2 separate regions of the Homo sapiens genome follow, and region 1 is linked to region 2. The links come from fine-mapping of genetic effects on gene expression. Tissue or cell type: whole blood. Region 2 holds a variant in brackets; the other region holds the start of a gene. All regions are shown on one strand. Distances are from middle to middle.

Region 1 (5,920 bases), 54 kb after region 2:
TGTTCATGGTGTTTCTTCTGTGGAATTTCCTTCTCATTCTTGCTGATAATGGCTAATATTGAATTCATTACTTAAGGCTTAGCTCTTCACATTCCCAAAAAGCCTTCTCTAACTCTTGTTAGGTTGACTTGAGACTTGCTCCTCCAAATTTCTCAGCATTCTGTGTATAACTCTATCACTGCATAGACTTTAGGCTCCTCAAGGGCATGGAAGCTTTTTATCATTTCATCTGTAGCACCTAGCAGGATGCCTGGCCTACAGTGACACTCAAATTTAATTTAATCTCCACGAATGTGTGTTACATGTGTAAGATTTAAGAGACATTATCTAAAAGGAAACTAGATAAGGATTGGAAATTCAAGAGAAAGATCTGGGCTAAAGATGCCAGTAATAGCTGAGGTCATGAAAGGGGCTAATATTTGCCAAGTGTCTACTGTGTAATGGGCACAGTGCTAAGCATCTGTGCATATATTCACAATTTTACAAGGTAGCAATTATATTTTATAAATGCAGAAGTAGTCTCAGGAAGGTTAAACAACCAGTTCAAGTTTCACAAAGCTAATAAACAATAAAACTGAGATTTGAACCAAGATCCTTCCATTACACAACACTGAATGAACTCAGGAGCGTGTGTGTGTGACAGAGAGAGAGAGAGAGAAGGAAAAAAGACGGAGAAGAAGAGACAAGGAGACGAGGACAGAAGACATCTTGGAGATGGGTTTAGGAAGAAGTCAAAAAGGGACATAGAGATGGGAGAAACACTGTTAGGGACTGGTATGTTGGGAGACAGTAAAAGATTTCAAGAAGAAATGATAACCATTTCAAATTCTTTGGAAAGATCAATCAATTAAAGAACTGAAAAAAGTCTTTTGAGTTCCAACAAGATCTTTTGGTCACCTTGGAAACAGCAGTAATTAGCAAAGTAGTGGGGAGAAGCTAGTGTACAACAGGTTGAGGAATGACTAGGAGGCAGGGATGTGGCAATGATGAACAGACTACTCTTTCGAGAATCAGCTGTAAAGGTAAGGCAGGCAATATGTAAAAACAAAGGCTTAGAGGTTGTTTTGTTTTTTTAGAAAAATTTTAAAGATGTCATAGACATGAGCATATTTAAATACTGAAGAGGCAAACTCATTTGGGAGGGAAAATTCAAGATACCTGTGAGAGGATGCCTTCAGAAACACTATTTTTGAGGAGGTGGAAGATGAGACGCAAAATAACTATGGACAAAGGGCTATTCCAACTGAGATGTCAATGTATATGTTTGCAGCTGAAATGAGAGTCAAAAATCTGGGTTTTTATCTGTGAAATGGGAAGAAATGAGGTCCGAGATTTCAAATATGAGCAACAAAACTCAGACTTTGATCCCAAACAGTTTCTCCCTACGCATTTTTTTTTCTCTATCGAATGGATCAATTAACATTCCCCTGTTCACCCTGGCCTCAAACCTAAGCGTCATCTGTGATTTCTCCCTTTTTTTTTTCCTTCCTAATGCTAATGAAGTTTAAAATAGTAAGACTACAAAGGAGTCTGAGGATAGTTATAGATGTTACCTCTAGAAGCTCAGGTTATTAAGGTTGTTACACTACACGTCACTATTAGCAGCTGCTGTGAGGGAAAGTTCTTGGTGAGAACGGGTCAGTGGTAGAACTTTACCAAGTAAACACCTATCGGGCTTCATTGTGTATGCTCCCAGTCCAATACACTACCTGGCACACAGCAGGCACACCGCGGGAACCCACGAATGAACGCTGGTGCTGGTGGGCCCGTGAGGAGAGTCATAGATTCACTGAATCGATTTGGACTTGGTAGAACCTTGGGGTCACCCTAACCCCCTTTTTACAGATGAGGAATCTGAGGCCCAGAAAGATGAGGTAACCTGCCCAAAGTCCAGAAGCGACGTAGCGCCAGGACTACAAAGGAGCAAACACAGTGCCAGGGGAAGGGGATCTAAGGAGCTGCGGAATTGAACAGCAGGATGTGCACTGCCATGTGGTTCTCCCCTTACAATGGGACGTTTCCTTCTGTTCTCGTCACACCCCAGCCCAGGTCCTGATCACTCCACGGGTCATTATCCCAACAGCATCCCTTCCTCCTCTTCTTGCCTCCCAAGCTACCCAAGATTCCAAAGCCAGATCAATAGTCATCAAACATTGCTTTAACTCACTCCTTTCCAGTTAAAAGCTTTCAAAGAACTAATTCATTTGGACTTTGTCCTATAGGTAGGGCTCTTCGGGGGGGCAGGGGGCAGCGGGGCGGGCACTGGGTCCCACGCCGAGAGGATTTCGTGCCAAGCCACGCACACGGTGCAGCAGGAGCCGGGTCCGCCTCCTCAGCCCCCAGCCCGGCCCCAGACACACCAGCTATCACACCGACCCTGGTCAAATAAACCAATGGGCACGTGGTCGGCCTGCAGAACAGAACCCAAGCGAGCATATGCCAGGAACCTGCCTTCCCGCCAGCCGCTCAAAACCCCACCCGCTGGCCCCGCGCCGCCTCAGACCGGATCCAGCTGGATTCCTCAGGGCGACGCAATCGCCTAACAGAATTCTACCTCTTTCTCAGGCCGCAGCCAATGGCGCGGCCCCTCGGATCCGGAGCCGCCGCGGGCTCTGATTGGCCGATAGAGTTAGCCTGGGGGCGGGAGAAGAGCGACCTCGGGGAAGCGTGTGGTGCGGGGAGGTCGCCCCCGGGCGGCGAAGCAGCCATTATGCAGGCGTGAGTGAAACGAATAAACAAACAAACAAAACCCACTAGCTGGGGCCTCCATTTCTTCCCCGCCCACCTTTCTCCCGCGTGGGGTCTCCCGTTTCCCAATCGCCACGCTTTCCCCGCCTTCGTCAACGCCTGGGTACGTCCCCCTAGCCGCGTGGGCCACGCACGTCCTGGCACTTAACCTCTGCCCGTCCGGCGCGAAGTTAGAGGCCCGGGCGGCGCGGACGGCGCGCACTCCCGGCGGTAGGGAGCTGAGGCAAGGGGCCCGAGCCCAAGCCCGCGGCCGCGGCCCGGCCCACGATGACTTGCTACCGAGGCTTCTTGCTGGGCAGCTGTTGTCGCGTGGCGGGCGGCCGGGCGGCGGCGCTGCGGGGACCGGGTGCGGGAGGCCCCGCCGCGCGGCCCCGGCTGGGCGGTGACGGTGGCGGCCGGCGGCACCTGGGGCAGGGGCAGCCGCGCGAGCTGGCGGGCTGTGGCAGCCGCGCGGACGGCGGCTTCCGCCCCTCCCGGGTGGTGGTGGTGGCCAAAACCACCCGGTACGAGTTCGAGCAGCAGCGGTACCGTTACGCGGAGCTCTCGGAGGAGGACCTGAAGCAGCTGGTGGGTCCTGGCTCGGCCCCGCTTCGCTCCCGGGCTCGGCCGGGGCTCTGGTGGCGGCTGCGCCCCCTCGGGGGGACCTCTCGGGACGACTCTTCCCAGGGCACCGCAGATGCCGGTCCTGCCTCTCTCGCGGCCCCCAGGTCCTCTGGCTTCTCCCTGGGCCTCCTTTGCCTTTGGGCGTGTGTGCGAGGGAGAGGCAGGGCCGGGGAGAGGGGGAGAGAGAGGGACAGTGGTTCATGCAGGGACTTAGGAGGCAGGGGCGCCGCGGGGAGGGCGAAGAGGGGCTGCCGAGTGGCCTCAGAGTGAGGGGTTTGAGGATTCGTTGGTGCCCTCGCCGCCCCCGCCCTCGTTCCCTGGTTGGGACCCACTCCAAGAAAGTGAGCCAGTGGCCTGAGGTCTGGACGCCCTGCGAACAGCTCCCCTGGCCGCCGCGAGAAAGGGGGCCCAGGGCGCCGCTGAGGGCTGCCGGGGGAAAAGGGCCGAAACAACCGCGGACACACCCCCTTTTACTCTGCAGGACTGCGAGGCCTAGGGCACTCCGGAAAGTCCTTCAGCGTGAGCCTTTTCCTTGCTGGAACGTGGTCGTTGGACACTACGAGCTTGTTTTAAAAGCACAGGTCTTTGGTGCTAAGAAGGAAAAGGGAGAAAATTTGACTTGTATATGTACGTTATTAAGGAGAAATGTCAGGACAAGGGGCTGGTATACTGGGTAGTGTGTGAAATAAAAAAGCCTGCGACTCTTGTGCAGCAGTATCTCCACAATATACCATATTTGATATGTTTATTAATATATCTGCAAAGATACAAATCCAAGGGAAAAACCAGAGTTTGAATCTTCCTGTTGTCATCCCCCCCCACCAACTTTAAAAACAGTTTCTGATCCCATACCACCATCCACCAACTTTAGGAAAAGGAGAGTGCCCGGTGCTACCATGAGCAGTATGTCCAGAAAAATATATTGGAAATCTCTTAATTGTTGGCACTGTGCACCAAAAGGTTTTGGAATTAATTGCACATAACTGATTTAGTTTAATTCTGTGCAAGACTAGACAACCTGTTGGAAACTTCTGGTATCGTGTGATCTTAGCGAAGTTATTTTGTAGAGGCATCAAAATGAAATTGTAAATCATCTTTGCTTAAGTGCTGAATCTGTTGTCAACATTAAACATCCTGCTTCTTTGTTGGGTTTACTGAAGAGGGCTCCTGCATTCACCTGATGGGAGTCTAGATGTGTAGATTTGTTTTCTTTTTCCTAAGTGTTTGAAAATGACTGTTTATAGAATACACTTGCATCATTTAAAGAATAAAGGGTTTGAACAGGAGGTTAGAGTAGTTGAGTTTGTATTAGGGAGTGAAACTAGAGGTGAGATAGGGACTAGTAATGTTCTAAGAAAGCACAGTGTTACTATTTGGGGAAAGTGGTGTGCCCTTTGGGTTGTACTAATTTTGCAAAGTCTAGCTTGTAGGATTTGTCAAATGCCATGTATGCATAAATATGTGCATACAGTTTTATCGAAGCTTCCCACAACAATTTAAAATAGCTCACTTGGCATGTTCAGAGTGTGGGATTAAGAGTGAAGAGCTCAGTTCTAGGCCCTGGTTCTGTGTGGTTAACTTCCTATGTGTGTTCTTCTCTGGGCCTCATAGGTGGAAATGATACTTTTTGTATAGTAGTGTCAGTTTTCAAAGTGCTTCACCTAATTCAGTATGTGAATTGCAGAGGTAGTACCAGATAGCCTCCAAGGCCCTTTACAGTACTGGCATTTTGAAACTGTGGATAACGTTTTCAAGGCCTCAAGAAAATGGGTGGCATCTCAGTTAGGATTAACTCTTGGACCTCTGAACTAGATTACCACTTAATAAAAAAACTTTTAAAATGTAGGGAAAATCAATAAGTCTTAAAAAGTCAAACTACCTAAGTGTACCCGTTCTGAGTGGAGAAATCTCTAATAGGTAAATATTTGTCTATTGCTAGGTAATGCTGTTTGGGATAAGCCAGCTTTGAAGTAAAACTCGTGGGCTGTAGAATACACAGTTTTGTAATTGCCAGGCAGTGGAATAGTTTTTGTTGGTGGTGTTGTCATTACAGTTTTATTGGATAAGTTCCTTACTGATTTGAATTTGTGTTATAGTTTATATAAAGGCCCATACTCAGAATGCAATAGCATTAGTTGTAGACCAGATGAGAGATTATTAACAGGCCAAAGAATACTGGGCTGTGTGAAGCTGTCCTAAAATGGGATTCTGTAATAGGAGTGATAAGATGATAAGTATTATTTGTTATATTGCTGGGGTAGAAAATACTAAGTTATGTGAATCATGTGAATTGGATGGATATAAAAGAAAGTGGCCAAGTGCTTGAGTCTCACCATGGCTGCTGTGTCTATAGTGTCATGGTAACTTGGTTTTTTGTCAAAGCATTCTCTTTTGTTGTCGTGGTGGTGGTTTTTTGATGTAAAACAGGTCTGTTTTAGGCTATTTGTTAAAATGCAAATGGAAGATGAAGGATAGAGTGCCAGTATAATTTTATACCCTGAAGGCTGATGATTTTCTAACTTTGTAGAAATGTAAACAATTACAGGAAATATTTTTTAGTTGATAAGGC
Region 2 (6,336 bases):
ACCCAAGTCTCAAAATATCTGCCCACATAAGCCACAATCCATAAAGTTGTGAAGCATGCTAATGCAGTCCAGACTGGCCATTGATTGCTGCAAGAAATATCATCTAGTGATTTGAGCTGGGTAGTATTTGCTGTGTTGCTAAATTGCATTCCAGTTACTGTCCTGGAGTTTTAAAGTATTCATTCAGAGCAGTGGCCCTGCTTTTTCCTCCAAGCTATTTTTGCACCTTGCTATTATGTGAAGTTCAGCAAAGGTCCCAGGAAGCAAAGCCATTTGTTTTAGAGAGTGAGGTCTGGCTTTATTCATGGAATCATCCTGGGTTCACGGCTTTGGCCTTTCCCCAGCCAGCCTAAAGTTCTGCCTCTATTATTTAGCATACAGACTATGATTAATTGACATTCGACACTTCTGTAGGCGTGACTAGCTTCAACACATACATATTTTCTTTTCCTTTTTTTTTTTTTTTTTAAGATGGAGTCTCACTCTGTCACCCAGGCTGGAGTGCAGTGGCATGATCTCGGCTCACTGCAACCTCTGCCTCCCGGGTTCAAGTGATTCTTCTGCCTCCGTCTCCTGAGTAGCTCGGACTACAGGCACACTCCACCATGCCTGGCTAATTTTTTTATTTTTAGTAGAGACGGGGGTTTCACCATATTGGTGAGGCTGGTCTCGAACTCCTGACCTCATGATCTTCCCACCTCGGCCTCCCAAAGTGCTGGGATTACAAGCATAAGCCACCGCACTGACCTCAACACATATATATTTTCTAACCCCCCATGCCATATGCTAAAATGCTTCGTGTCCTTCCACCTAGTCACTCACAGAAGTGTAATTTTGAAGTGATTACATAGATAAAAATCACTTATTCTTCAGCAGTTATCTGGGCAACAACAAGGTGCAAAGTGTTGTGCTAGATGCTGAGTATGCAAATTGAACTAAGACAACTAAGCCATGGTTTTCTGTCCACGTGGAGTTTACTATGACAACAAATGCTCTATCAGTCCAGAACACAAGTCCAGGAGGCTCATCTCCCAACTTGTTGCTATCTTCTAGCTTCTCCTGTGATATTTTTAATCCATTTATCTCTAATATTGATTCTATGAACACATTTGTAAACGTTAATTTACATGTCTATACAGCCTCAGCAAAGCTCATTACACATTACATGTACTAGGCAGACAACCTTCCTTATGTATTATGGTGCTTTAAAATTTACAAATGGTCTCATATACATTATTTCATTAATTTTCACAACAACCAAATGAAATAGTGTAGTCAAGCTTCTTCAGGGAAACAGAACCAATAGGATGTGTGTGTGTGCGTGTGTGTGTGTGTGTGTGTATACAGGTGACTCCTGAACAACACAAATTTGAACTGTTCAGATCCACTTATATGTGGATTTTCTTCCTTTGCCACCCTTGAGACAGCAAGATCAACCCTTCCTCTTCCTCCCCCTCCTCAGCCTACTCAAAATGAAGACAATGATGAAGACCTTAATGACAATCCACTTCCACTTAATAAACAGTAAATATATTTCTCTTCATTATGGTTTTCTTAATAACATTTTTCTCTAGCTTATTTTATCATAAGAATACAGTATATAACACATATAATATATAAAATATGTATTAATCGACTGTCTTATGTTATTGATAAGGATTCTGGTCACCTCTAGGCTATTAATAATTAAGTTTTGGGAGCAGCAAAAGTTATATGCAAAATTTTAACGAGAGAGAATAGAGAGAGAGAAGAGAGAGGGTGAGAGAGAGGGGGATTTATTTTAAGAAATTCACTCCCACAATTATGAAGGCTGGCAAGTCCAAACTGCAGTGTAGACTGACAGGCTGCAGACCCAAGTGAAGAGCTAATTCTGCAGTTGAGTCCATTCTTGGTTGCTCTGGGGTAGTCAGTCTTTTGTTCTATTCAGGCCTTTGACTGATTAGATGAGACTCACTCACTAATGAAGGGCAATCTGCTTGAGTCAAAGTCTACTAGTTTAAGTGTAAACCTCATTCAAAAACATCCTCACCGAAACATTCAGAATGTTGACAAAATATCTGGGTATCATGGAACAGCCAAGCTGACACATAAAACTAATAATCACGAGCAGGTATTGTTATCCTTATTTATAAAGATGTGGAAACCGTGAATCTTCAAGGTCAAGATGACTCTTCCAAGGTTACACAGTTATTAAGAGCTGCTTTCAATGTACTTTCTGCCACATACAGCTGTCTCGTAAAATCTATGATTTCTAGTATTACAATGTTTAATTTTTTTAAATTGATCTATACTAGAGAAACTTCTCCATGGATAACCAAGACATGTTGGAATTCCTCATGATTTTCTTTTTGTCTTCTGACACTTATTCTCTGAGTGTCGTACAATTCAATTCAATTCTGACACTACCCAGAATTAGTGAAGACCCACAAATGAAGGACTTAGTCCCATAAGACTGCCCCGTTTCAGATTCCAACAACAAATTTCAGGTGTCCCCAAGCAATCTGCACTTCTGCCAGGACAATTACAAATTAAAGACGTCCCACAACCCCTCAGATTTGATAATTCACTAGAACAACTCACAGAATTGAGGAAAGCTCTGTACTTTCAATTTCCATTTCATTATAAGGTATACAAATGGTCAGCCAGATGAAGAGGTACATGGGAGGAGGACTGGAAGGGTCATGAGCACAGGAGCCTCTGCTTCCACAGAGTCAGGGTGTGCCGCCCTCTTAGTATCAGGAAGCTCCCCTGAGCATGGTGTCCAGGGTTTTTAATGAGGTTTCATTATGTAGGCATGATTGATTAAATAATTGGCCATATGACTGAACTTAATCTCCAGTTCTTCTCTCCTCCTAGGAAGTTAGGGGAATGGGGTGGGTTTGAAATTTCCAATCTCTAATCACATGTTTGGGCTTTTTGATGTGACAGCCCCTTCCTTGGAACTATGTAAGGATCCCTTAGATAGTTCCATAATAAGCCTTCCTAATAGAGTCCACTAGGAAACAATAAATAAATAAGTTTAATGGCTGAAACTTCATTTTCCCACTTCACAAATATTAGGATGGCTACTATTTGAAAAAAAAAAAAAAAAAAA[C/AC]AGGATATAACAAATGTTGGTGAGAATGTGGAGAAATTGGAACCTCGTGCACTGTTGCAGGAGATAAAATGGTGGAGCTGCTGTGAAAAGTACTATGGCAATGTATTAGTCTGTTCTCATGCTGCTATAAAGAACTCCCTGAGGCTGGGTAATTTATAAAGGAAAGAGGTTTAATTGACACACAGTTCCACAGGGCTGGGGAGGCCTTAGGAAACTTATGATCATGGCAGAAGTGGGGAAGCAAACGTATCCTTCTTCACATGGTGGCAGGAAGGAGAAGTGACGAGCAAAGACGGAAAAGCCCCTTATAAAACCATCAGATCTCATGAGAACTCACTATCATGAGAACAGCATGGGGGTAACAGCCCCCATGATTCAGTTACCTCCCACTGGGTCCCTCCCATGACATGTGGGGATTATGGGAACTACAATTCAAGATGAGATATGGGTGGGGACTCAGCAAAACCATATCACGCAGTTCCTCAAAAAATTAACAAATAGAATTACTATGTTACCCTGCAATTTTACTTCTGGATAAAATCCTAAGAGAAGTAAAAGCAGGGATTCAAACAGATACTTGTGCACCTATGCTCATGGTAGTATTATTCACAATAGCCAAAAGATGGAAACAAACAAATCTCCACTGACAAACGAATGGATCAACAAAATATGGTGTGTATATATATGTGTGTGTATATATATGTATACATACATATATAATATGTAGTGTACATATGTATATATGCATATATTATATATGTATATATACACACATATATGTATATATAGTGTATATATACACTATATATGTATGAGTATATATATGTTTATATGTCATATATATGTATATATAAACATACATACATATATACACTATATATATACACTATACATACACACTATATATATACACACACTATACATATATATATATATAAAACCAAATAATTTTCAGCCTTAAAAATGAAGGAAATTCTGACACATGCTAAAACATGGATGAACCTGAGGACATTAAGTTAAATGAAATGAAGGCAGAAATAAAAATGTTCTTTGAAACCAACGAGAACAAAGGCACAACATACAAGAATCTCTGGGACTCATTCAAAGCAGTGTGTAGAGAGAAATTTATAGCACTAAATGCCCACAAGAGAAAGCAGGAAAGATCCAAAATTGATACCCTAACATCATAATTAAAAGAACTAGAAAAGCAAGAGCAAACACATTCAAAAGCTAGCAGAGGGCAAGAAATAACTAAAATCAGAGCAGAACTGAAGGAAATAGAGACACAAAAAACCCTTCAAAAAATTAATGAATCCAGGAGCTGGTTTTTTGAAAGGATCAACAAAATTGATACACCGCTAGCAAGACTAATAAAGAAAAAAAGAGAGAAGAATCAAATAGACACAATAAAAAATGATAAAGGGGATATCACCACCGATCCCACAGAAATACAAACCACCATCAGAGAATACTACAAACACCTCTACGCAAATAAACTAGAAAATCTAGAAGAAATGGATAAATTCCTCGATACATACACTCTCCCAAGACTAAACCAGGAAGAAGTTGAATCTCTGAATAGACCAATAACAGGATCTGAAATTGTGGCAATAATCAATAGCTTACCAACCAAAAAGAGTCCAGGAAGAGATGGATTTACAGCCGAATTCTATCAGAGGTACAAGGAGGAACTGGTACCATTCCTTCTGAAACTATTCCAATCAATAGAAAAAGAGGGAATCCTCCATAACTCATTCTATGAGGCCAGCATCATCCTGATACCAAAGCCGGGCAGAGACACAACCAAAAAAGAGAATTTTAGACCAATATCCTCGATGAACATTGATGCAAAAATCCTCAATAAAATACTGGCAAACCGAATCCAGCAGCATATCAAAAAGCTTATCCACCATGATCAAGTGGGCTTCATCCCTGGGATGCAAGGCTGGTTCAATATATGCAAATCAATAAATGTAATCCAGCATATAAACAGAACCAACGACAAAAACCACATGATTATCTCAATGGATGCAGAAAAGGCCTTTGACAAAATTCAACAACCTTCATGCTAAAAACTCTCAATAAATTAGGTATTGATGGGACGTATTTCAAAATAACAAGAGCTATCTATGACAAACCCACAGCCAATATCATACTGAATGGGCAAAAACTGGAAGCATTCCCTTTGAAGACTGGCACAAGACAGGGATGACCTCTCTCACCACTCCTATTCAACATAGTGTTGGAAGTTCTGACCAGGGCAATTAGGCAGGAGAAGGAAATAAAGGGTATTCAATTAGGAAAAGAGGAAGTCAAATTGTCCCTGTTTGCAGATGACATGATTGTTTATCTAGAAAACCCCATTGTCTCAGCCCAAAATCTCCTTAAGCTGATAAGCAACTTCAGCAAAGTCTCAGGATACAAAATCAATGTACAAAAATCACAAGCATTCTTATACACCAACAACAGACAAACAGAGAGCCAAATCATGAGTGAACTCCCATTCACAATTGCTTCAAAGAGAATAAAATACCTAGGAATCCAACTTACAAGGGATGTGAAGGACCTCTTCAAGGAGAACTACAAACCACTGCTCAAGGAAATAAAAGAGGATACAAACAAATGGAAGAACATTCCATGCTCATGGGTAGGAAGAATCAATATCATGAAAATGGCCATACTGCCCAAGGAAATTTACAGATTCAATGCCATCCCCATCAAGCTACCAACGACTTTCTTCACAGAATTGGAAAAAACTACTTTAAAGTTCATATGGAACCAAAAAAGAGCCCGCATCGCCAAGTCAATCCTAAGCCAAAGGAATGAAGCTGCAGGCATCACGCTACCTGACTTCAAACTATCCTACAAGGCTACAGTAACCAAAACAGCATGGTACTGGTACCAAAACAGAGATATAGATCAATGGAACAGAACAGAGCCCTCAGAAATAACACTGCATATCTACAACTATCTGATCTTTGACAAACCTGAGAAAAACAAGCAATGGGGAAAGGATTCCCTATTTAATAAATGGTGCTGGGAAAACTGGCTAGCCATATGTAGAAAGCTGAAACTGGGTCCCTTCCTTACACCTTATACAAAAATCAATTCAAGATGGATTAAAGACTTAAATGTTAGACCTAAAACCATAAAAACCCTAGGAGAAAACCTAGACATTACCATTCAGGAGATAGGCATGGGCAAGGACTTCATGTCTAAAACACCAAAAGCAATGGCAACAA

The links. PIP is the estimated chance that this variant, and not a neighbour inherited with it, causes the effect.
Region 1: it holds the start of NADK2, and the variant in region 2 is fine-mapped to the expression of NADK2 in whole blood (INTERVAL, PIP above 0.99).

The regions. Positions count from the first base shown.
Region 1 is chr5:36,238,894-36,244,813 of GRCh38, reverse strand. NADK2 (NAD kinase 2, mitochondrial) reads left to right here and starts at 2,889. Exons shown (of 12, transcript NM_001085411.3): 1 at 2,889-3,315. The coding sequence starts at 3,016. It overlaps LOC124900962 (a long non-coding RNA gene), which reads right to left and starts at 2,912. Exons shown (of 3, transcript XR_007058733.1): 1 at 2,786-2,912. RefSeq lists enhancers at 2,365-2,564, 3,915-3,984 and a silencer at 2,805-3,824.
Region 2 is chr5:36,292,432-36,298,767 of GRCh38, reverse strand. The region is part of intron 1 of RANBP3L (RAN binding protein 3 like); the gene reads left to right. All of the region lies in intron 1 of LOC124900962 (a long non-coding RNA gene), which reads right to left. Among named protein-coding and RNA genes, the nearest start is that of RANBP3L, 6.3 kb to the left of the region's middle. The variant C/AC (reference allele first, on the strand shown) is at 3,095.